Homo sapiens: one gene and its partners. The protein of the gene in region 2 interacts with the protein of the main gene of each other region in a pairwise test. Each region holds a gene or a part of one and is shown on either strand. Other genes may lie near its edges. The genes, in order: PARVG, LHX3, CPNE7, CWF19L2, QRICH1, TSEN54 and FIGLA.

Evidence for each region.
Region 1: the proteins of LHX3 (region 2) and PARVG interact in binary tests that used the Homo sapiens proteins (3 or more experiments, as listed by UniProt).
Region 3: the proteins of LHX3 (region 2) and CPNE7 interact in binary tests that used the Homo sapiens proteins (3 or more experiments, as listed by UniProt).
Region 4: the proteins of LHX3 (region 2) and CWF19L2 interact in binary tests that used the Homo sapiens proteins (3 or more experiments, as listed by UniProt).
Region 5: the proteins of LHX3 (region 2) and QRICH1 interact in binary tests that used the Homo sapiens proteins (3 or more experiments, as listed by UniProt).
Region 6: the proteins of LHX3 (region 2) and TSEN54 interact in binary tests that used the Homo sapiens proteins (3 or more experiments, as listed by UniProt).
Region 7: the proteins of LHX3 (region 2) and FIGLA interact in binary tests that used the Homo sapiens proteins (3 or more experiments, as listed by UniProt).

The regions. Positions count from the first base shown.
Region 1 is NC_000022.11:44,194,425-44,197,924, reverse strand, and holds part of PARVG (gamma-parvin), read right to left. Parts: intron 1,771-3,500; coding exon 1,712-1,770; intron 1,579-1,711; coding exon 1,510-1,578; intron 1-1,509. UniProt on the Homo sapiens protein: Plays a role with ILK in promoting the cell adhesion and spreading of leukocytes.
Region 2 is NC_000009.12:136,195,750-136,198,939, forward strand, and holds the end of LHX3 (LIM/homeobox protein Lhx3), read right to left. Parts: coding exon 3,159-3,190; intron 3,072-3,158; coding exon 2,903-3,071; intron 1,995-2,902; coding exon 1,576-1,994; 3' UTR 501-1,575; downstream 1-500. UniProt on the Homo sapiens protein: Transcription factor.
Region 3 is NC_000016.10:89,589,258-89,592,757, forward strand, and holds part of CPNE7 (copine-7), read left to right. Parts: intron 1-639; coding exon 640-694; intron 695-1,749; coding exon 1,750-1,801; intron 1,802-1,869; coding exon 1,870-2,003; intron 2,004-2,940; coding exon of another isoform or gene 2,941-2,943; exon of another isoform or gene 2,944-3,500. UniProt on the Homo sapiens protein: Calcium-dependent phospholipid-binding protein that may play a role in calcium-mediated intracellular processes.
Region 4 is NC_000011.10:107,447,826-107,451,325, forward strand, and holds part of CWF19L2 (CWF19-like protein 2), read right to left. Parts: intron 1-3,500.
Region 5 is NC_000003.12:49,032,140-49,035,071, reverse strand, and holds part of QRICH1 (transcriptional regulator QRICH1), read left to right. Parts: intron 1-1,843; coding exon 1,844-1,952; intron 1,953-2,298; coding exon 2,299-2,450; intron 2,451-2,798; coding exon 2,799-2,889; intron 2,890-2,932. UniProt on the Homo sapiens protein: Transcriptional regulator that acts as a mediator of the integrated stress response (ISR) through transcriptional control of protein homeostasis under conditions of ER stress.
Region 6 is NC_000017.11:75,519,528-75,522,381, reverse strand, and holds part of TSEN54 (tRNA-splicing endonuclease subunit Sen54), read right to left. Parts: intron 974-2,854; coding exon 872-973; intron 678-871; coding exon 49-677; intron 1-48.
Region 7 is NC_000002.12:70,780,644-70,784,143, forward strand, and holds part of FIGLA (factor in the germline alpha), read right to left. Parts: intron 1-3,500. UniProt on the Homo sapiens protein: Germline specific transcription factor implicated in postnatal oocyte-specific gene expression.

The DNA of each region.
Region 1 (3,500 bases), on a different chromosome or scaffold from region 2:
CCATTATTTTACCAAGGGAGAGATACAGATAGAACAGGTAGAATGTAAATCTCAGAAATCATCCTGTTTATACCCACATAAAATATAATAAAACTACAAATCTCTCACTTATTTCATGCCGGCAGCGTGCCAGGTAATATACCAAACACGTGGGGCTCACCAGCTCATGTATCACTCACAATTCTACCAAGTTGCTATCTTGTACCCACTTTATAAGAAGAAGAGCCTGAGGTTCAGAGAAGTCCAGTAACTCACCCAAGGTCACACAGCAAATGTGGAGGGTTCTCAGCAGACCCCAGGGCCCATAAGTGGTGGAGGCAGGAGGGAAATGTGTGTCTGTCTGGCTACAGAGCGTGATACTTCCACCCTGCCATGCTGCCACACCATATCACACACAAACTTCTCACGTGGCCACCATGTGAGGTGGTTATAAGCACTAACTCTGGCCCCAGCTGCCTGGGTTCAAATCCCAGGTCCACTACTTATCACTGTGTGACTTTAGACAAGTTAATTAACCTCTCTGTGCCTTAACATCCTCCTCTGTAAGTGGGGTAGTACAGTTCCCACTTCAGAGGATTATGGAGAGGATTCAATGAGTTAACATGGAAAGCATTTTGCCCTGGGACTGGCACATAGTGAGGGCTTTATTGGTTTTAGCTACTAGGCATGGGAGTACATTAACCCCTCCCTCCCCAGCCAATGCCCATCCAGAGTCTCTCTGAGAGGTCAGCAGCTCTGGCTACGATCTTCATGAGCCAACTGGTCCATCTGGGACCAGACTCCCTCCCCACCCCAGACCCCAGCACCCAGCAGAACCCAGGTGGCCAGATGCCTACGTCATGTCCCATTCAGGCCACTGGCATCCAGCAGACTCCATGCCCACTCTGCAGGCCCCGGGCTGGCAGCCGGTCTGCTACTGTGCACCCCCTGCTCCCCTGCAGTGTGGGAAGCCTACAGGGACACAGCTTCACTGTGGAAAGCCACAGCCCATGGTGGGTGCTGACCCCCTGAGATTCTGCTCCTGCTCCTGGGAAAATTCGACTTAAGTCAGCCGGGGGAGGGGCTGGGCTCCTCAGGGTGCTTGTGAGAGACATGGAGCCTGCAGACGGCTGGGCTGCGCTGTCACCTACGCCTGGCACATGGGACAAATCTAATAAATTCTGTTTGGGCGAACACAACCACGCAGGGAAGACTCATATGCTTCAAGTCTTGGCATCAGCTAGTCTGAGATTAATTATAAAATAAAATTATAACAATGAGAAGCAGTGACAGCCGAGGTGACTCCAGCTTTGTGAAGTGTTCCCACACCTCCACCCCCGGGATCCCACCATGTCCCTGGTGACCACTGCTGCCTGCCAGCAACAGTCCCACCGGGGAGGGGGACCCTAAGGCTCCAAGAGGTGATGCAACCCCCACCACACAGCAGGTTCCCAGGGCCTGCAGAACCCTCTTTCCTTCCTACGGCCAGTGGCCCTGCCCTGCCTGGGGACGCCGCAGCTCAGTCCCTACCTGGGTGTCCAGATTCTGCACAGACAGGCCCAGGCGGTCCAGCTTCTGGTTGACAAAGTTCACGATGGCCTAACCAGGGAAGAACAAGGGCCTAGCACACAGCAGGTGTGATGGGAGGACCCGTGATTCCCTCCTACAGCGCAGGTGGGCAGTGGGTGGGGTGGGCAGCCTGAGAGCCGCTGAGAGCTTTGATCTCTCCTACCTCTTTCACTGCGTTCACTTTCTCCGGAGCCAGCTTAAATAATTCATCAAAGACGTCCTCTGCAGACACAGATCCAATAAACACCTCATTACGATGCTATTATCTTTGTGCCAAACAGGGAATTTTTTTTTTCACAAAAGTTTCTTAGAATAACCAGTCCAGAGGGAGCTGTCGTTTTACATCATGGTTCTCAAATAAAACAGACCTGGATTTGAGTCACTGCTCTCCTGGCCGTGTGGCCCCAGGGGAGTCACCGTCTCTCTCTGTGCCTCCCTAGCTGGGGTTGTTGCAGAGATGGAATTCCATAGCAGATAACACACATGGCCCCATGGCACAGTGACTGGGCACACAGTAGGACTTCATAAACAGCCACTCTTCCTGCAGCTGACACCTGTTACTACATCTGCACAGCTGCATCCCTTTATCTGCCAGCTGGCACTCCCTCCTCCCAGGGCCCTACTCCACTCCCCAGGGCCACGGGAGCTGCCACAGGTGGGTGATCAGGGTCCATGAGTCTCCTCCCCTTGGTTTTAAATTGGCTGAGTGAGGACTGCTCCCTGCTGCCTCCCCCCGCCCCCAAGAGTGTCTGAACCTGCTGCCTGCAAAAGGCCAGCTCTTCAGCAACTCAGTCACTCCCTTGGGGTCTGGGAACAGCGGCTCAGGCCCTGGGGTCCAGCCTCGGGTGCCCATGTCCTCAGGCTAATGCCCTTTGTGCACTAGCTGGATTCCTGCTATTTGCAGCTAACATACCTCCCATGGGGACACTGGTCCTTGGGCACCAAATACACAGACTGGCCTGAGTTTGCTGTGGCTTCTGCCACTCAGCAGCTGTGTGACTCTAAGCAAGTCACAGCACCTCTCTCTGTTTCAGTTCCCTTGTTAGTGAAGGGGGAAAAGTAGCACCAAATAGCATCATGCACGTTAAAATGCCCCTGCTCTGTGTCCTTTCTTCACCCTCTGACACCCACTTCTCATGCTGCCCCCTGCCCAAAATACTGCTCCCTGGGCAACCCCTCATGTCCTCAGGCTGCCCCTCCTGCTACATACACAGATCCTCAGCCAGCCCTCCTTGCCCCTCCTTTCTCCTTTCTCCCCAAACTCCGCCTTCCTCAGCCCCCATTCTCAGAAGCTCCTGGCAGGTTATTATCTCTACCTCTGCAGGGAAGGTGCCCCTCATAGCATCCCTGCCCACATAGCTATGTGTCTAAGTGGGGAGGGTATAGGGAGGAAAAATAGTGTTAGGATGGATGGATATGGGTGAATACATAGGTGGTTGGATGGGTAGATAGATGAATGGGTGGATGAATAGGTGGGTAGGTGGATAGATGAATGGATGGATGGATAGGTGTGTGGGTGGATGGATGGATAGATGGATGGATGGATGGATGAATATATGGATAGGTGGGTGTATGGATGGATGGATGGATAGATGATGGATGGGTAGGCGGATGGATGAATGGAAGCATGAATGGATGGATGGAGGGATGGATGGATGGATGAATGCGTGGATAGGTGGGTGGGTGGATGGATGGATGGATGGATGGATAGGTTGATGGATGGATAGGTGGATGGATGGATGGACAGGTGATGGATGGGTAGGTGGATGGATGAATGGAGGCATGAATGGATGGATGGAGGGATGGATAAATGGATGGGTGGGTGGATAGATGAATGGAAGAATGGGTTGATGGATGCATGGGTGTATGAATGGATGGATGGATAGGTGGGTGGGTGGATAAGTGGGTAAGTAGATAGATGAATGGAAGAAAGGATGGATCAATAGATGGAT
Region 2 (3,190 bases):
GGGTTGGGGGGTGGGGACGGGGAAGCAGGGCTCAGAGGGTTCCAGCCCCCAGCCCAGGGTCACACAGCAAGTTAGAAGAGCCAGGATTGGAATCCAAGCTGGAGAGACTTCCATGACCATGAGCCTGGTCACCCTACCAGCCTATGTCCTGGGGTTGGTGCCAGCTGCAAGCTGTGAATGGCACACACGGCCCACCTCCCACCCCCATCATGCTCTCTGGACATCCCAACCCCTGCCTCTCCCAGGGACAGGGTGTGGAGACCGCAACCCCTCCCCTCCATCAGGAAGGGATGGGCTGTTCCCCCCACCTCCTTCCAGTGCTCATGAGCATGGCCAAGATCCAGGGATAAAGAGAGCCCAAATTCATACTAGGTGCCAGCCCAAGCAACGAACTAGGGGGACTCAGGGCCCCTCCAGGGCTGCCTCTCAACATTCACAGAATGTTCCCCACACCCAACACTCCCCAACCCCCGCAGCCTCAAAAAAACGCGGGCCTTCCATTGACTGTAACTGACAAATTTATTGAAGTCTTGGAAAGAGCTGATCACCCGAGAATAAATAAAAGACACAGAACATTCACAGAACCAATAGGTAGCTCGAGATTCAGGTTTGCGGGAGTGACTTTGACTTACACACAGGCCAGCCTTTGTGTCTGGGGCACGCACAGCTGCGGGCATCTCCCAGAAACTTCTTCCCAAAGGATCTGATGGAGGAGGCAGGGCAGGCTCAGAGGAGCCCCACCCTTCTCCAGCGGGGAGACTTCCCAATCTGGGGCTGGCAGAGCCGGCTCCGGCAGGGAGGGCAGGCTGTTTGGCAACAGACATCTGTGGGTGCAGCCTGGACACCAAGGGCCTGGGGTGGGGTGAGGAGGAGACCCTGAGGGGCTTAGAGAATTGAGCTTGGAGAGAAGGGGCGCCAGGCATTTTTGCCTCCTCCACAGGATACTCGAGAACAGAATGATCTAGAGACCTGGGGATTGGGGAAAGCTTCTCCCGGGGAAGGTGGGGCTGGAGGCAGAGAGGCCCCCTGTGGTCTGGGGAGAGGAGGGGGCCTCTCCCGGAGGACACAGGTGTGTCCCCGCCTCTGCAGCCTCTTGCCTCGACAGGCAAGGCCAATCTCCGACCTAAAGAGGGAGCCTCGGGGTGACGGCTCCAAGACACATGGAGCCTGGGAAGTGAAAGCACAATTATGATGATTTCTCAGTTTTAGAGATGAAAGCGTTTTTCCAGCCCTCGGGCTATGCTGGGCTGGGCTGGGCCTCAGCAAGGTGACATTTCATGTCTAGAAATAGCAGCAAGTGCTCAGTTAATTGGTCAATAAAGGGGAGAAATTTGCTTACAAAAAAGGCTGGCTTGCTGGGAGGCCACCTGGCGGGCCAGCCCTGTGTCAGAGGAGGGGCCAGGTGGGTCCCTCAGCCCCCAGAGAGGGAGCTGTGCGGTCGGCAGTGGGAGGCTCCGAAGGCACCAGCCCTCCCTTGACGCCCTGGCCCCACTTCCTCGGAAACCCCAGCAGCCCCGAGCCGCCCACCCAGGGGCAGCTCCCTCGTGTGAGGTGCAGGGTGGAGCCGGGCCTGGGTCAGAACTGAGCGTGGTCTACCTCATCCAGCCAGGAGGCGGGGCTGGCAGGGAAGTCGGGGTAACCCCCGCTGCTCCCCGTGGATAGGTCAGAACTGGGTCCGTTCCCTGCCAGCACCCTCATGGGTGGGGGCCCGCCGGGGGCTCCCGAGGGCACAAGGCCCAAGCTGGTGTCTGGGTACACCAGGCTGGAGAGGAGGGGCTGGGGGCCAGGGAGGCTCTGCGGGGCGGCGGGGGATGGGGGGACACCGTAGGGGCTGCCGGGACGCAGCTCTCGGTACTGCTCTGGGCCTGCCAGGCCTCCATGCTCCAGGGAGAAGTTGCCCAGGGCTCCCGAGGGCCGGCCCAAGGCCTGGGTGGGTTCCCCCAAGCTCCCGTAGAGGCCATTGGCCGGGCCCATTTCCGCCAAGGAAGGCTCATCTGCAACAGAAGCAGAGGCTCAGTCAGCGCCTGCCCTCCACCTGCGGCCCCTCAGAGTCCCATCCTGCAGGCGGAGGCACCCCTGGGTCGGAGAAAGAGTGGCTGCCCCACACCACATGACAGGTCATAACAGGCCCCTTCTACTGTTGGAGCATGGCTGCCCCTGCCCCTCCACTGCCCTCACCCCTGAGTCAGCCCAGGTGTCTCAGGCCTGGTGGGATCAGAGTCAGGAACAGCCCAGCCAGGGCCCAGGCTTTCAGGACCAGCCCCACAGCAGCCTAGGAAGGGGGCACAGATACCACCACCCACATTTTGCAGACAAGGATATTTAGTTCCAGAGTGGCTGAGTGAGTAGCCCGGGTCACGAGGCAGCCCAAAAGAGAGTGTCTTGTCCACATTCTGAGGATGGGCATCAACAGATGGGGACGCAGCATCCCCGGTGCCCGGAGAATGAAATAAATAATCCAGGCCCCACAGAAGGGTATGGAACCTTCTCTCCCTGACCCCAGGTAGCCCCCTCCCCCAACTCCAAGCAGCTGGGACTTCGACTCAGTCTTTCCCGAAATGCACTGCCCATTCTCCTAAAAATCACTGCAAGGGCTAGGAGCCAGAGAGACGGCCTGGACACGCCCACCCCCCCATGAGAAAGCCCGTAGGCGCCCAGCTTGGGGACAGGTCGGGCCACAGGGATTGTGTCCCCACCAGGGGAAAAGCAGTGGTCCGGAGTGGCCACCCAGGGCGGGGAGGGTGCTGGGGGAGCAGGTTCTGTAAGTGAAATGCTTTTGAAAGTAGAACTTAAGGAGTCCACTAACTCCATGGGAAATTCAGATCCGCGGGCTCCCTGGGACCCCTGCGACCCCGCCGACGCGCGCTCGTCCCCCCCCGAGCTCCGCGATCCCTCCGCCTACCGGGGAAGGAGACCTCAGCGTCGCTGTCCTGCCCCTCCTGAACGCTGTCCTTGTCCGACTTGGAGCCGCCGCGGGAGCGCTTCATGTTGCGGAAATACTGCCCCCAGCGCTGCCGGCCGGCGTCCTTCTTCAGCCTCTTCTCCTTGGCCCGGCGGTTCTGGAACCAAACCTGGGGGCGGGGCGGGGTGAGCGGCCGCCCGGCTCTGCGGGGGCCCCCAAGGCCGCGGGCGGGAGGGAAGCAGGGGCGAGCGCTGACCTGCACCACGCGCATGTCCAGGCCCGTCTCGG
Region 3 (3,500 bases), on a different chromosome or scaffold from region 2:
CTCAAGCCTGGGTGACAGAGCAAGACTCCGTCTCAAAAAAAAGAGACTCTGCGAGGAAGGGCTGGGTAGCCCTACTGGAGGCTGCCGCATAGACTCTGCACATGGTCCTGGGGGGACGTCTGTGTCCCGCTTTGCCAGAATAGCAAACCGAAGTCACAGAGGCTTGGGGCTCACCCGCGTATGCTTTACCAGGGAGGGCCCGGCACAAAACCCTGTGCTCTGAGCTTCTTACCACAACACAGACCCCTGGCCTGGGGCTTGGGAGAGGATGCCCTGAGCTCCCTACCCTACAGACCTCTCTTTCTGGGTTGGTGAGGGCCACAGTGGGTTCCTTGGCCCCACAGGACCCCTCCCGTGGTCTGAGAGCCCCCGGGGAGGCGTCTGCAGGGGGACAGCATGTACACAAACGTGGAGTTGGGAGGCAGGCTCGCGGGCGGCAGGACCGTGTCCCCTTGCACACAGGCCTGTGCCTCTGCTGCCCTGAGCCTCGGTTCCCCACCTCTGGCAGGTGCTTACTGCCGTGGTACCAGGCCTGGGCACCCCCAGTCTTTTGGGCGCCAGTCATGTCTCCCTAGAAGTGGCCCCTGTTGCAGCCACAAGAGGTCAGGGCCTCCTGGTGACCTCCTGCCTCTCTTCCAGTGACAAGAGGTTTTCCGCTTTGGGGTTTGGAGCCCGGATCCCTCCCAAGTATGAGGTAGGAGAGCCCAGAACCTGAGACCTCAGAGCTGTGCCCTTCTCGTGCCCTCCCAGGCAGAGGACGGCCTGGCCCAGGGAGCCCTGGCTGCCTGCTGGGAACCGGAGACTGTAGGATGGGATTGGGGTGCAAAGCGGGAACCCCAGCCTTCTAGCCAGAGAGGCTGGCCTTTGGCCTCCTAGGACTTGTTAGCTTGAGGGGTGTCTGGAGGCCAACTCCGTGTTCCTTCAGGAGATAGGGAAGGACGTTAGTGTGGAATCCTCTATTGCACATAACAATTCAGCTAGCTTCGGCCAGGCGTGGTGGCTCACGCCTGTAATCCCAGCACTTTGGGAGGCCGAGGCGGGCCGATTACCTGAGGTCAGGAGTTCCAGACCAGCCTGGCCATCATGGTGAAACCCCATCTCTACCAAAAATACAAAAATTAGCTGGGCGTGGTGGCACATGCTTGTAATCCCAGCTACTCGGGAGGCTGAAGCAAGAGAATTGCTTGAACCCGGGAGGCAGAGGTTGCACTGAGCTGAGATCGCACCACTGCAGTCCAGCCTGGCCTGTAGAGCAAGACTCTGTTTTAAAAAAGAAAAAAGAAAACAACAAAAAACTTCAACTGGCTTCAGCAGAAAAAATGGTGTGTGGGGATTTATTGGCTAATGTAAGCCTCAGGCACTGCTGGATCCAGGGAGGTCTGCCTCCCTCTCTGTTTCATGACTCTGCAGAACATGGTCACCCATGGGTTTGGCTTCCCCTAGAAACTCCAAGCCTACCTCTCTCAGTAGGTGGGGGACATGGGGGCCAGGTCGGGGGAGCAGCTGACTGGGGGACATGGGGGCCGGGGACGGGGGGAGCAGCTGACTGGGGGACATGGGGGCCGGGGACGGGGGGAGCAGCTGACCGAGCCCTCTTTAGTAGGCGGGGGACATGAGGGCGGGGACGGGGGGAGCAGCTGACTGGGGGACATGGGGGCTGGGGACGGGGGGAGCAGCTGACCGAGGGACATGGGGCCAGTGGGGTGTGTTGCAACGAGCAGCTGACTGAGCCCTCTTGTTCCCACCCAGGTGTCCCATGACTTTGCCATCAATTTCAACCCTGAGGACGATGAGTGTGAAGGTAGGAGCTCGAGGCAGGCCTGGGGAGGGGAGTGCAGGGGGGCCGGGCTCACCCCCTGCCCCCCACAGGCATCCAGGGCGTGGTGGAGGCCTACCAGAACTGCCTGCCCAGGGTCCAGCTCTACGGCCCCACCAACGTGGCGCCCATCATCTCCAAGGTGGCACGCGTGGCGGCGGCCGAGGAGAGCACCGGGAAAGCCTCTGTAGGTGCCCGGGGGGTGTGGTGCATGCTTGGTGTGGGGTCGGCTGTGTGTGCACCAGCGCGTGGACGTCAGGGAGGCACCTGGCAGAGGGAACAGCCAGCGCAGAGGCCCCCAGGCAGGACAGAGCTCAGGAGGGCGGGGGCCCAGCTGGTTGACTACGTCTCCCTCAAAGGTGCAGGTGTCTCGGGCACAGGGCTGTCCATCGCCTCACACGGTCACGGCCATGGCTGCAGCGAGGCTGCCCCTCTCCTCTTCCTCTGGGCACCACAAGGCCGCGCACATGTCTACTGTTTGGCTGTGTGTGTATCGTCATTTTGTTTACATGTGTCTTTCCTTTGCACAAATGATACGGTGCCGAGAACTGCACTGGATTCTACTCTGCCACCGTGTGGCCCTGTATGTGTCTCTGGGGCCACAGCCAGCCTGCTGCTTTCTTTTCTTTTCTTTTGTTTTTTGTGAGACAGAGTCTCACTCTGTCACCCAGGCTGGAGTGCAGTGATGTGATCCCAGCTCACTGCAACCTCTGCTTCCCGGGGTTCACGCCATTCTCCTGCCTCAGCCTCCCAAGGAGCTGGGACTACAGGCGCCCGCCACCACTTCTGGCTAATTTTTGTATTTTTAGTAGAGACGGGGTTTCACCCTGTTGGCCAAGCTGGTCTCAAACTCCTGACCTCATGATCCACCCGCCTCGGCCTCCCAAAGTGCTGGGATTACAGGCGTGAGCCACCGTGCCCGGCATTCTTTTTTTTGTTGTTTTTTTTTTTTGAGACGGAGTCTCGCTCTGTCACCCAGGCTGGAAGTGTAGTGGCGCAATCTCCGCTCACTGCAACCTCCCCCTCCCAGGTTCGCGCCATTCTCCTGCCTCAGCCTCCTAAGTAGCTGGGACTACAGGCGCCCACCATCATGCCCGGCTAATTTTTTTTTTTTGTATTTTTAGTAGAGACGGGGTTTCACCGTGTTAGCGAGGATGGTCTCGATCTCCTGACCTCGTGATCCACCCGCCTCGGCCTCCCAAAGTGCTGGGATTACAGGTGTGAGCCGCCGCGCCCGGCCCAAAATAATTTTAAACTCACCAAAAAGTTACAAGAGCTCTGAGGTCCTGCAACCCGTGAGGCCAACAGCTGCTCACACATTGCGCTCCTGCTTCACGTCTGTGTAGTTGTTGTATTTGTATGTTTTCTTTTTCAATTTTTTTTTTTTTTTTTGAGATAGAGTCCTGCTCTGTCACCCAAGCTGTAGTGGTGCAATCTCGGCTCACTGCAAGCTCCACCCTCCGAGTTCAAGCAATTCTCCTGCCTCAGCCTCCCGAGTAGCTGGGATTACAGGCTCCCGCCACCACGCCCGGCTAATTTTTTGTATTTTTAGTAGAGACGGGGTTTCACAGTCTTGGCCAGGCTGGTCTTAAACTCCTGACCTTGTGATCCACCCGCCTCGGCCTCCCAAAGTGCTGGGATTACAGGAGTGAGCCACCGCGCCCAGCCCAAATTTTTTTTATTG
Region 4 (3,500 bases), on a different chromosome or scaffold from region 2:
TTGAAACAGAACAGGAAAAAACAAGAGAAAATGAAACAGCAAACCAAGACTTTAACACAGCTATCATAAATATGTTCAAGGAAGGGAAAATGTAAAGATAATGAGGAGATAAACTGAAAAACATTAGAAAGATCCAAACGAAACATCTAATGATAAAAAAAAAATACAGTACCTGAAATGAAAATGTCACTGGATAGGGATAACAGTAAGCTAGACACAGCAAAAGAAAAGGCCAGTCGGCCAGGCGCAGTGGCTCACACCTGTAATCCCAGCACTTTGGGAGGCTGAGGCAGGCAGATCACGAGGTCAGGAGATCCAGACCATCCTGGCCAACATGGTGAAACCCCATCTCCACTAAAAATACAAACAATTAGCTGGACGTGGTGATGAGCACCTGTAATCCCAACTACTCAGGAGGCTGAGGGACGAGAATCACTTCAACCCAGGAGGCGGAGGTTGCAGTGAGCTGAGATCACGCCACTGCACTCCCGCCTGGCAACAGAGCGAGACTCCGTCACAAAAAAAAAAAAAAAAAAAAAAAAAGGCCAGTAAACCTGAAGCTCACGACATAGCAATAAAATATACCCAACCCAAGGCATAGAAAGGAAAAAGGCTAGAAAGTAAGTGAACACAGGCTCATCAACCTGTGAGACATTATTTTAAGGAGACTACCAAAATGAGAGGGAACAGAAAAAAAAAATACTTCGAAAAAAGCCTGAAAGTTTCATATTTGATGGAAACTGTAAACTCACAAATCAAAGCAGCACAATGAACCTAAGGCAGATGCTACACTCTGAATGTTTGTGTCCCCCACCAAATTCTTATGTTGAGATCCTGACTCCCAAGACAATGATAATAGGGGCTGAGGCCTTTGGGAGATGACTGGGAATGGGATTAGTGCCCTTATAAAACATAGCCCAAGAGCACTCCCTTCTGCCATATGAGGTTAGAGTGAGAAGACAGCCATCTCTGAGGAACTGAACCCTCATCAGACACAAAGTCTACCAGCGCCTCGATCTTAGACTTTCTAGCCTCCCAAACTGTGAGAAATAAGTTTCTGTCATTTATAATCCACCCAGTTAGTTTTGGTATAGCAGCCCAAATGAACTAAGACAGTAGAATAAACACAAAGAAATCAATACCAAGACATATCACAATTGATTCACTGAAAAATAATGATGAAAAAAAAAGCCCTAAAAGCATCCAGAATAAAAAGGCACACTACATACAGAGAAAAAATATTACAATGACTACAGAGTTCTCAATATGTACAATGCAAACCAGAAGACAATGGGATGACATTTTACAGTGCAAAAAAAAAAAAAAAAAGAAAACACTATAAACTTAAAATTCTTTATCTAGCCAAGTATCTGAAAAATGAAGATTGCTAGTAGGAACTTCTGAGTTTGTGGTAAAAGAAAAAAAGAATGAAGATGAAATAAAAGAAATTTTCAAACAAAAGCTGAGAGAATACAATGTCTGCAAATCCATATTATAATACATGTTAATGAAAGTTCTACAGACAAAAGGAAAATGGTATTAGACAGAAATTCAGACCTACATAAAATAATAAAGAATATCAGAGATGATAAATCTGTGGGTAAATATAAAAGACTTTCTTCATATGTGTAACTTATTTAAAAGATAACTGACTAAAGTATAAATAAAAAGAATGTATGACATTAAAAATTATAAACAATGTGGGTTTATAACATATGTAGAAGTAAAATATATGACAACAATAGCAAAAAATATGGTAGGAGAAAATGGAAGTATATTTTGGTGAAAGTCTAATTATAAAAGTAAAATTATATATTATTTGAGAGTATGGTAAGTTAAAATATGCATAAGACTTAAAGCAGTCATTAAAAATAAATAAGGTATACCTAATAAGCCTACAGCAGATGAAATGGGATGCTAAAAAACACTCGATCCAAAAGACAGGAAAAGGAAGGAACAAAGGAAAAAAGAACAAAGAAAAAATAGAAAAGGAATAACAACATGGTAGACTTAAACTCATCCATATCAATTATTACATTAAACATAAATAATCCAAACCAGTACTATTCAAAGAATTTTTCTATATACTGTCGAATATAGTAGCCACATAAATTTGGCTGATATAATTTTAATGAATTTTAACAAAAAATTTAAAAGCCATAAACAGCTAACAGATTAGAGAGCACAAAAAACATCTAATTGAAAAGTAAGAGACGTGAGCCAAGATTGCGGCACTGCACTCCAGCCTGGGTGACAGTGTGAGACTCCATCTCAAGAAAAAAAAAAAAAAGGAAGAGGCCAGATGCAGTGGCTCACATTTGTAATTCCAGCACTTTGGGAGTCCCAGGTGGGAGGATTGCTTAAGGTCAAGACTTTGAGACCAGGCTGGGCAACATGGCAAAACCACATCTCTACAAAATATATATAGATCATAGGCTAGAATATAAAATGTCTCAAAAACTTTTTAACAACTGAAATTATACAGAGTACAATAAAATAATAATTAAATCCAAAGTCAATAACCAAAAAAACCTAATAAAATCCACAAATATCTGGAAATTTAAAAACTCATATATATATATCCTGGACGTCGAAGTGCACACCCGTAGTCCCAGCTTTCAAGAGGCTGAGGTGGGAGAGTCACTTGAGCCCCAGGGGTTGAAGCTGCAGTGATCTACTACACTCTAGCCTGGGCAACAAAGCAAGACTCTGTCAATCAATCAATAAATCAATCAATCAATAAAATAAAAAAGAAGAAATTGATAGGCGAGATAAAAAAGCAAGACCCAATTATACACTGCTTACAAGAAATACACTTTCAATATATAAAAAAGGTACATTAAAACTAAAAGAATTTTAAAAAGACGATGAAAACACACAAAAAAAGAAAACTGAAGAGGCTTTATTAATATGAGATACAAGAGACTTCAGACAAGAGTATTACCAAAGATAAAAACGAAAACTTCGTAACAACAGTCAGTTCATCAAGGAGCTGTCTATGTACCTAATAAAGCTTCAAAATTACATAAGGCAAAAACTGACAAAACTGAAAGCAGAAATAGGTAAAATCCACAAAACAATTAAGAGATTTCAATACTATTTTCTCAGTAACTGACTGAACAGGTGAACAGAAAATCATTAACACTAAACTTAATACTATTAGTCAACTTTCCCTAATTGACATTTATAAAACACTATACCTAACAATGGCAGAATACATACTCATTTCAAATACATATGGAATTTTCACCAAAATAGATCATAGGCTAGAAAATAAAATGTCTCAAAAACTTTTTAAAAACTGAAATTATACAGAGTATAACATAATAATTAAAATCAAAGTCAATAACCCAAAAAAAAACTAGAAAAATCCACAAATATCTGCAAGTTTAAAAACTCTTATATATCCATGAGTAAGAAAAAGTAAAGTAAAAAATATTTTGAATGGGACAGCAATGAAAATATAACATCAAAGTTACGTAGAGATACAACAGTGCTAT
Region 5 (2,932 bases), on a different chromosome or scaffold from region 2:
GGTCACAAAATAGCCGAAAAGTAGACAAAAAATAGAGTCAGAACTGCCTTAAAGAGATGGAAATGCACTATTAGAGAGCCAGCTTTGTTTTGGCAAGAGCATAGAACACAGAAGAGGAGTGTATCGGGCAGAATGTTCTTTTTTCTGCTTCCAGGAAGTGTCACACACTGTGCTTGCTTGGAGAATCCCGAAACCCTGCAGGAGAATACTGTTGCCTGCTCCTATCTCATTATGCACCCAGTGCACAAACATGTGCATACTGACTGACTTCAGCACATGAAGGGGCTTGGTAGTCATTCAAATGTCATCTTTCTTTGGTGCAGACCTGGCTGACCAGGGCTCTTATTCAAATTATTGACCTTTGCCTGTACCTAGCTCTGGGCTCACTTATGAACCAGGGTCTTACAGTAACACCAGCCCTGTGGGGGGGATCTTGTAATAGTTCAAATACTGGCATATTGGCTAGGCGTGGTGGTTCACGCCTGTATTTCTAACTGCTCAGGAAACTGGCAGGAGGAGTCTTTGAGTCCAAGAGCTCAAGGCTGCAGTTAGCCATGATTGTGTCACTGTACTCTAGCTTGGGTGACAGAGCGAAACCCCATCTCTTTTTTTTCCCTTTTTTTTTTTTTTGAGACAGGATCTCACTCTGTCACCCAGGCTTAAGTACAGTGGTGCGATCACGGCTCACTGCAGCCTTGACCTCCCAGGCCCAAGGAATCCTCCCACCTCAGCCTCCCTGGTAGCTGGGATCACAGATGTGCACCATCACACGACTAATTTTTTTGATTTTCAGTGGAGATGAGGTCTGGCTATGTTGCCCAGGCTGGTCTTCAACTCTTGGGCTCAAACAATTCTCCCACCTCCGCCTCCCAAAGTTCTCGGATTACAGGCGTGAGCCACCATGCCTGGTCTTCCTTTTTTAAAAAAAGATAAATATTGTAGAAGAGACCCTGTATCTTAGCTAATAATAATAATAATAATAATAATAATAAAATCCCCCAAAGAGTATCAGTCTCTTTATCTAGAGAAGAAATGACAATAGCCGTTTTTTTTGTTTTTTTTGTTTTTTTGTTTTTTTGTTTTTGAGATGGGAGTCTCGCTCTGTTGCCGAGGCTGGAGTGCAGTGGTGCAATCTCGGCTCACTGCAAGCTCCACCTTCTGGGTTCACACCATTCTCCTGTCTCAGCCTCCCGATTAGCTGGGACTACAGGAGCCCGCCACCACACCCGGCTATTTTTTGTGTTTTTAGTAGAGACGGGGTTTCACCATATTGGCCAGGATGGTCTCAATCTCCTGACCTCGTGATCCACCCGCCTCGGCCTTCCAAAGTGCTGGGATTACAGGCATCAGCCACTGCGCCTGGCCGGCCTTGCTTTTTAGAGACAGTTGAGATGAGAGAAGACTTGGTAAGGGCAAACGGGCGTGCATGCCAGTTCTTTGGGTCCTGGACCACCTTTGAAAATATGCAAAGCTCTGTACACTCTCAGAGAATTATGCATATATGCAGAGTTTGGTTTATAGTTTTCTGTACTTCACTGTCTCTGAGGGCAGTCTTTTTGCCCTGTGTTAGCCTTGGATTAGAGGGTAACAACAATCATGTAAGGCTGTGGTTCTCAAGTGTGGTGTTAGAAGTGCTCATCATCAGGTTCCACCTCAGAAACAGATTGGGACCCAGCTATCTGTGTTTTAAGAAGCTTTCCAGATGATTTTTGCCACACTTTAGGGAGAGTCCCCTGATGAAATTTATACTCCTGTGTGGTCCTTATGCTTCACACATCCCATATTGTACCTTTGAGAGACCACCTGCCATCCTCTTGTTGTGACAGTACTCTATTCCTCCTAGGCTATGTCTTGCCCAGCCACGTGACTGAGGAGATGCTATGGGAGTGCAAGCAGCTTGGGGCTCACTCCCCCTCCACCTTGCTGACCACCCTCATGTTCTTTAATACCAAGTAAGTGTTCTAGAGGCTCCACTGCTGGCATCTGTCCAGTGAAGAGTGTGGAAGCTATCCAAGAGGCCTTCTGAATTCCTCTGACATATATTTGAGAAACTGGGCTACTGAAAGCCCTAACCCCACTTGGCTGCATTTTATTTGGTAACCAGTGAGGCAAACACCCTTGCCAGACCCCTACCATCCATCTTGATGTGGTTCCTGCACTGGACACTGCTTGGGTACGGGCCTGCCCAGATCTTGGGAATGTGGGCAGTGGCTCCTCTGAAGCACCAGTGGGCAGAGGATGAGTCATGGTATCCTCCCGGCACCCCTCCCTCTGCCTTGCATTTTACTTGTGATCCAGGTACTTCCTATTGAAGACAGTGGACCAGCACATGAAGCTGGCCTTCTCCAAGGTCTTGCGACAGACAAAGAAGAACCCCTCTAATCCCAAGGATAAAAGCACGAGTATCCGGTACTTGAAGGCCCTTGGAATACACCAGACTGGCCAGAAAGGTAGGGAAAGGAGGCAGGGATGGCAAAAACAGGTGCTACTTGTCCTGCCCTGTCCTGCCCTTGTGCCTGTGAGGCTAGTGATAAGTGTAAAGGTTGGGATTTGCTGGATAAAATTCTCCACTCCCTTCTCCCCAGCCAAAAATTCCAAACTTTCCTCCTAGAAGCAGAGAAGCCCCAGACAGAATAGCTGCCTCTTCCCTTAGTAGTCACTGCCCATGCCTCATACCTTCCCTCCCCCGACCCTGTATTTCCTAGTTGGGCTGGCTGAAAGCCTAAGTTTCCTGATCTGGGCCTGAGGTAAGGCAGTCTGATGCCAGGTCTGTGGTGGTGGGGATGTGTGTTTTATAGTTACAGATGACATGTATGCAGAACAGACGGAAAATCCAGAGAATCCATTGAGATGTCCCATCAAGCTCTATGATTTCTACCTCTTCAAATGGTGAGGCTTTATTGTGACTTGCTGTCCATGTGTGCGCATGTGT
Region 6 (2,854 bases), on a different chromosome or scaffold from region 2:
TCCTCAGCTGCCAGTGGCCCTCGAAGATGTGGCAGGCTGAGGGGGTACCTGGGGAGCTGGCCTGGCCAGGACTCAGCAGCGGGGTGACGGGCTGGCCCCACAGGTGAGGGGCCCGGCGCTGGCTCCTCTGCACCTGCCGCCGCTGCAGCAGCTCCTTGTACTCCCGCCAGCTGGAGCACCGCTGCACCTCGGGATCGGCGTTGACATCTTCCTGGAACTGCGCGGCCTCCGCGTGGTGCTCCCGTTCCCGCCTGGAGAGCTTCTCCTTGCGCTGGTTCAGCTTCTGGCACCAGGACTCAGCGTCTGTCTCCCGCCCAGCCACGTTGGCCGGGAGCAGCTCTGGGGCTGGGGCGCGCAGAAGGGTGTGGCGGCTGTCTGAAGCCATGTTGGGGAAGGAGATCTGCTCGAAGTTCCAGCGCCGCTTACCGGCTCCCGTGACTCCGTTCTCGGCTCTGCCACTCTCCCAGCTGCACCCCACCCCCTCCCTGGCCGGGCCAGGGCTGGGGCCCAGGGACCCCAGAAGCTGAAAGGGGCCCCCTGGGCCCTTCATGGGGCTTGACTCCTGGGGTTTCTCCTCTGGGCATTGGCTGGGCTGGCTGCAGGGAGGTGGGCTGGAGGCTGCCAGACTCTTGGGTTGCAGGGAGTTGTCCAGGGCCTTGGCCTTCTTATTAATGGACCTGAGGGACGTGGGGGAAAAGCAGCACATCTGCCCCTGGTTGCTAAGGTGCACACGTCCCATGGGAGCTGAAGGCAGGTCCCCTAGTGTCTCCCTGAGCCTGCATGGGAGCTGCTGGTTCTTAGAAAGCCTGTGCATTTTCCAAGGTCCCAGACACCAGCACTCCCTGGGGGGCCACCGTGATGTGGGAGTTACCGAGGGCTGGAGCTGCTCCTCTTTCTCTTGCCATCTCCATCCTCCAAGTGCTGCACGCTGGCATCCAGGTTAAGCTGCCTCTCATACGGGGACAGGACAGAGCTGTGGGGTGAGAACAGCGGGTGGGCCACTGACCCACCTCCTCAGCCTGGGGATCTGGTGGGATGTGTAAGGAAACGGGCCAAGAGGACAGTCAGTGGGCCAGGATCGGAGCCACACCCAAGTGCTAAGGCCCTAAGCAGACCCCCATGAGGGGTACAGGCCCAGCCAGGGGGCCCAGCCATGTGCCTCTGCCTAGGCAATGGCCCAGAGGAGCTAGCAAACTTGGTAAATATAGAAAAATAAAAACCTTGGATAACTATTGTTAACATCTTTCTTTCGTTTATGTACACACTAATCTCTCTCCATATATTTTTTTCTAACAAAAATGTCATTGTACTAGCATACTGCTTTGTGATCTTTTTTTTCACTCAATAATATATTGTGGACACAGCCCCGTCACTGCAGCATTCTTCCCTGCTGTGAATTTTTTCCTTTTTCTTTTTTTTTTTTTTTTGAGACACAGTCTCGTTCTCTCACCGGGCTGGAGTGCAGTGGCACAATCTTGGCTCACTGCAACCTCCATCTCCTGGGTTCAAGCGATTCTCCTGCCTCAGCATCCCGAGTAGTACCGGGACTACAGGCGCGTGCCACCATGCCCAGCTAATTTTTGTATTCTTAGTAGAGACAAGGTTTCACCATGCTGGCCGGGATGGTCTCCATCTCCTGACCTCATGATCCACCTGCCTCGGCCTCCTAAAGTGCTGGGATTACAGGTGTGAGCCACTGTGCCTGGCCTCCTGGCTGTGAATTAAGGCTTTAAGGCAATGCTGTTCAAAAAAGAGCCACTAGCGACAGGTGGCTATTTAAGTTTGCTTTTTTTTTTGAGATAGAGTTTCGCTTTTTCGCCCAGGCTGGAGTGCACTGGCAAGATCTCGGCTCACTGCAACCTCAGCTGCCCAGGTTCAAGCAATTCTCGTGCCTCAGCCTCCTGAATAGCTGGGACTATAGGCGCCTGCCACCACACCTGGCTGATTTTTTTTTTTTTTTTTTTTTGGTATTTTAGTAGAGACAGGGTTTCACCACGCTGTCCAGGCTGGTCTCGTACTCCTGAGCTCACGCGATCCGCCCGCGTCGGCCTCCCAAAATGCTGGGATTATAGGCGTGAGCCACCACACCAGCCTATTTAAGTTAGATTTAAATACATTTAAATTAAATGAAATTAAACATTCAGTCCCACAGTTGCTCTAGCCCCATGTATTAGACATCACAGACACAGAACATTTTCATCATTACAGAAAGTTCTATTGGACAGAGCTGCTCTAAGGGATAACCTCTCATTTGTGTGAGCCTGCCTCTTGTTCAACTCTTGTTTGCAAGTACACTGATTTTGCACAGTGAGTGTGTTCTGTGTGACTCCTCACTAAATGCAAGCTCTGTGAGGGCAGTGATTTTGCTCTTCTGTTCTCAGCGATGTGTACAGGGCCTGACCCCCAGCAAATAATAAATATCGTTGATCATTCTCACAGGTGAACCACTGTACACGTCCACGATTATTTCCTTAGGATAGGTTCCACTTTCAGAAAAGAAAAGATGTAGAGCTGGGCGTGGTGACTCATGCCTGTAATCCCAGCACTTTGGGAGGCTGAGGCGGGAGGATCATTTGAGGTCAGGAGTTCGAGACCAGCCTGGGCAACACAGTGAAACCCCATCTGTACTAAAAATAAAATAAAATAAAAAAATTAGCCAGGCATGGTGGCACACGCCTGTAATCCCAGCTACTTGGGAGGCTGAGGCAGGAGAACTGCTTGAACCCAGGAGGCAGAGGCTACAGTAAGCTGAGATCATGCCACTGCACTACAGCCTGGGCGACAGAGTGAGACTCCGTCTCAAAAAGAAAAGAAAAGATGTGCCTGCTTTAGAGCTTTTGTGACATACTGTAAC
Region 7 (3,500 bases), on a different chromosome or scaffold from region 2:
TCTCAGAGATAAATGTTAACAAAGAGAAAACTAGCCAGAAAGACGGCTGCACAGTAGGTACTTCAAAGAAAATGCGAGTTCTTCTCCCTCCTAAACAATTCAGTACTAATGTCATCAGTTGGGTCACAGTTAGGTAGTGAGAAGCCACAGTGACCCAAGTGAAGTGGTATCAGAGCCCAAGCAGGGTGAGATGGCACCCACATACAGAGGCAGCCCAGCGCAGGATATCAGAGATCCAGCAGATGAGGGGCATATTCACATGGGGGGTGTGGTCCAGTGCAAACATGGTACAGCCCAATCAGGATGAGAACGGCAGCCCCATGAAAGGAGTGGAGGCCTGGCCTGGGGACTCAGAGCCCAAGCTGGGTAAGAAGTCCATGGAAAGGGGCAGTTCAGCATGGAGTAGAGAAACCTGAGCTGAGTAGGCCAGGCACTTGTGTGTGCAGGTGATTTAGCGAGAGCAGGGAGAGGAGGAATCCACATATGAGGGGACCGGCGTGGAACGTCAGAGCCAAGAAGGAGGTTTTTGCGGAGGTACAGCTTGCCATGAGTGTTAAAGTTCAAGTGGGTGAGGAGAACAGCCATGTGGTGAGGGGATGGCAACAGAGATGGGAGATGGGTTATACACAGGGGCATCCTCAGATAAGTGGCTGATTCCAGGGCTGGGATAGAAAAGTACAAGATGAGCTTGGAACACCTTCTGCCAAAAAGGAAATGATCAAATAATCGTGATGACATATCAAACAGAAAGGCTGCCAGCTTAAGGAGCTTTCGCTGGCCACAGTGGGGACAATTGGAGCAATAAAATAATAAAAAATGATAGTATATAATAATCCACTGAATTAAACAGAAAACCATGAGCTCATACTAATATAAAAATGTCTGTATAAAAACAACCAAAATGTTCTAAAATATTTACGTGAACAGTTAAACTGTGGTACATCCACACCACAGATGACTACTCAGCAAAAAGCAGAGGAACAGACCATTTATACAATGTGGATGATCTCAAGGGCATCATCTGAGTGGAAAAAGACCATCTGTAAAAGTCACATAATGTATGGTCCCATTTTTATAGCATTCTCAAGATAAATTATAGAGGTGGAGAACAGATTAGTGATGTCCAGGAGTTTGGAAGAATGGAGGGTTGGGAGCAGAGTGTAGGTGTGACCATAAAGGGGCAGCGTGAAGATCTTTGTGGTGATGGAACAGTTCTGCATCTGGATTGCAATGGTGATTCCATGAATCTACACGTGTGATAAAACAACATACAACTATGCATACGTGGTACCAATGTCAGTTTCCCAGTTTTGATATTATACTATAGTTATGGAAGATGCAACCATTGCGGAAAACTGGGCTACGGATGCACAGCACTTTTCTGTACTATTTTTGCAACTTCCTGTGAATCTATAATTACTTCCAAATTACAGATTTGATAAATAAATATAGAATGTTTGATGAGTAATGAGATCTTTACATAGTTTCAAAGCACCTCCTCACAAAATACATATTAATTACAAAAGAAAAAGATTAAAGTGAAAGGCTTGGCAGTCACCACCTTAAGCAAGTGATCAAAGTGAATATCCTTAGAAATAGAATAAATCAAAATCTGCCCCATGTAATAGGATGCAATGAGTAGAAAACAGCATCACTTTTGTTATTCCTGCCGACGATGCATATCTGAATCTAATCGAAAGGAAACAGACAAATGCTGATCAAGACACGCTCTATAAAACAACTGGCCTGTAATCTCCAAACGTGTCATGGTTATAAGTCACAGAAGCACCAAGAAACTCTCCTTCCAGACTGAAGGAGCCATGGCAACTAAATGTAATTCATGATTCTCAGCTGGGTCTTTTTGCTAGAAGAGACATTATTGAGACTACTGGTGAAACTTGAATGGGACCTGAGGATTGTATGGCGGTAACGCCGCAACATTAATCCCCAGACTTAGTGGTTGCATTGTGGCTATGCAGGGGAATGTCCTGTTTGTAAGAAATGTACACTGAAGCCTTAGGGGTGATGGGACATCAGGTTGACCCTCAAATGTGCCAGGAAAAAAGTTCTTTGTACTGCACCTGCAACCTTTCTATAAGTTGACTATTGTTTCAGACTAATTTTTTTAATTTTAAAAATTAATGGCTGGGCATGGTGGCTCATGCCTGTAATCCCAGCATTCTGGGAGGCTGAGGTGGGCAGATCACGAAGTCAGGAATTTGAGTCCAGCCTGGCCAACATGGTGAAACCCCATCTCTACTAAAAATACAAAAATTAGCTGGGTGTGGTGGTGTGAGCCAGCTACTCGGGAGGCTGAGGCAGGAGAGTTACTTGAACCCGGGAGGCGGAGGTTGCAGTGAGTCGAGATGGTGCCACTGCACTCCAGCCTGGCAACAGAGCGAGACTCTGTCTCAAAAAAAAAAAAAAAAAAATGATTTGAATGTGAAAGGATGAAAAATCCTTGACAAAACTGATGAAATACTAGAATGCTTCTGCAAAAAAATGGCACTCTTTACAATCAGGCCTCAGAAGTCATACTTGACAGAAGTGACATGCACTGTCTATAAAAATCTCAAACGTCGAGTCTTCCTTGGTTCATTCTACAAATTAGCACTCTTCCAATTAACAACAAACTTGGTTGGCTAAAAAGACTAAATATTAAGTGTTTTACTCCCTTTTTTGAAGGAAATTCCAGTCAGAACATCTCTGGCTTTTACTAGGAAACGTTAGTCCCCACTCTAAATTAGTGTACTATACGTGGCCTATGCCCAGGTTCAATTATCCTTGGAAAACAAGGACCTCCCATCAAATGTACTTGCTACTAGTACTGCCAAGCACAGGCCTGCTCTGCTACTGCAGAGGCTCCTGTCCCAGCCCAGGTCCAACAGGACTGGCAGGAAGGTGTAGCCAGGTGGCTCACCATGACAGTGACATGATGACACCTACCTGACAAGGATCAATGAGGATTAAGTGCAAGTAAGATTTTCACCTTGATACTAGCATTTGCAGAAGCATTACTCTTCTTAGATAGTCAGGCTCAAGGTCTAGCTCAGGTCATTTTTTTTTTTTTTTTGAGATGGTGTCTCACTCTGTCACCCAGGCTGGAATGCAGTGGCATAATCTCAGCTCACTGCAACCTCCCCTCCCAGGTTCAAGCGATTCTCCTGCCTCAGCCTCTTGAGTGAGTAACTGGGACTACAGGTGCCCGCCACCACGCCTGATTTTTAGTAGCAATGGCGTTTCACCATGTTGGCCAGGCTGGTCTCGAACTCCTGACCTCAGGTGATCCGCCCACCTCGGCCTCCCAAAGTGCTGGGATGACAATTGTGAGCCACTGCGCCTGGCCCCACTCTTTTGTTGTTGTTGCTTTTAGTCATTCCATGTCAGCTCATGTAGTAGCAACAGGAATTCTGTCTCCTATGGGTTGACTGGCCAGCGAAATCTTATATCTCAAGTGGTCAGAATATGAAAATCTACACTGAGCATATGCACAAATGAAT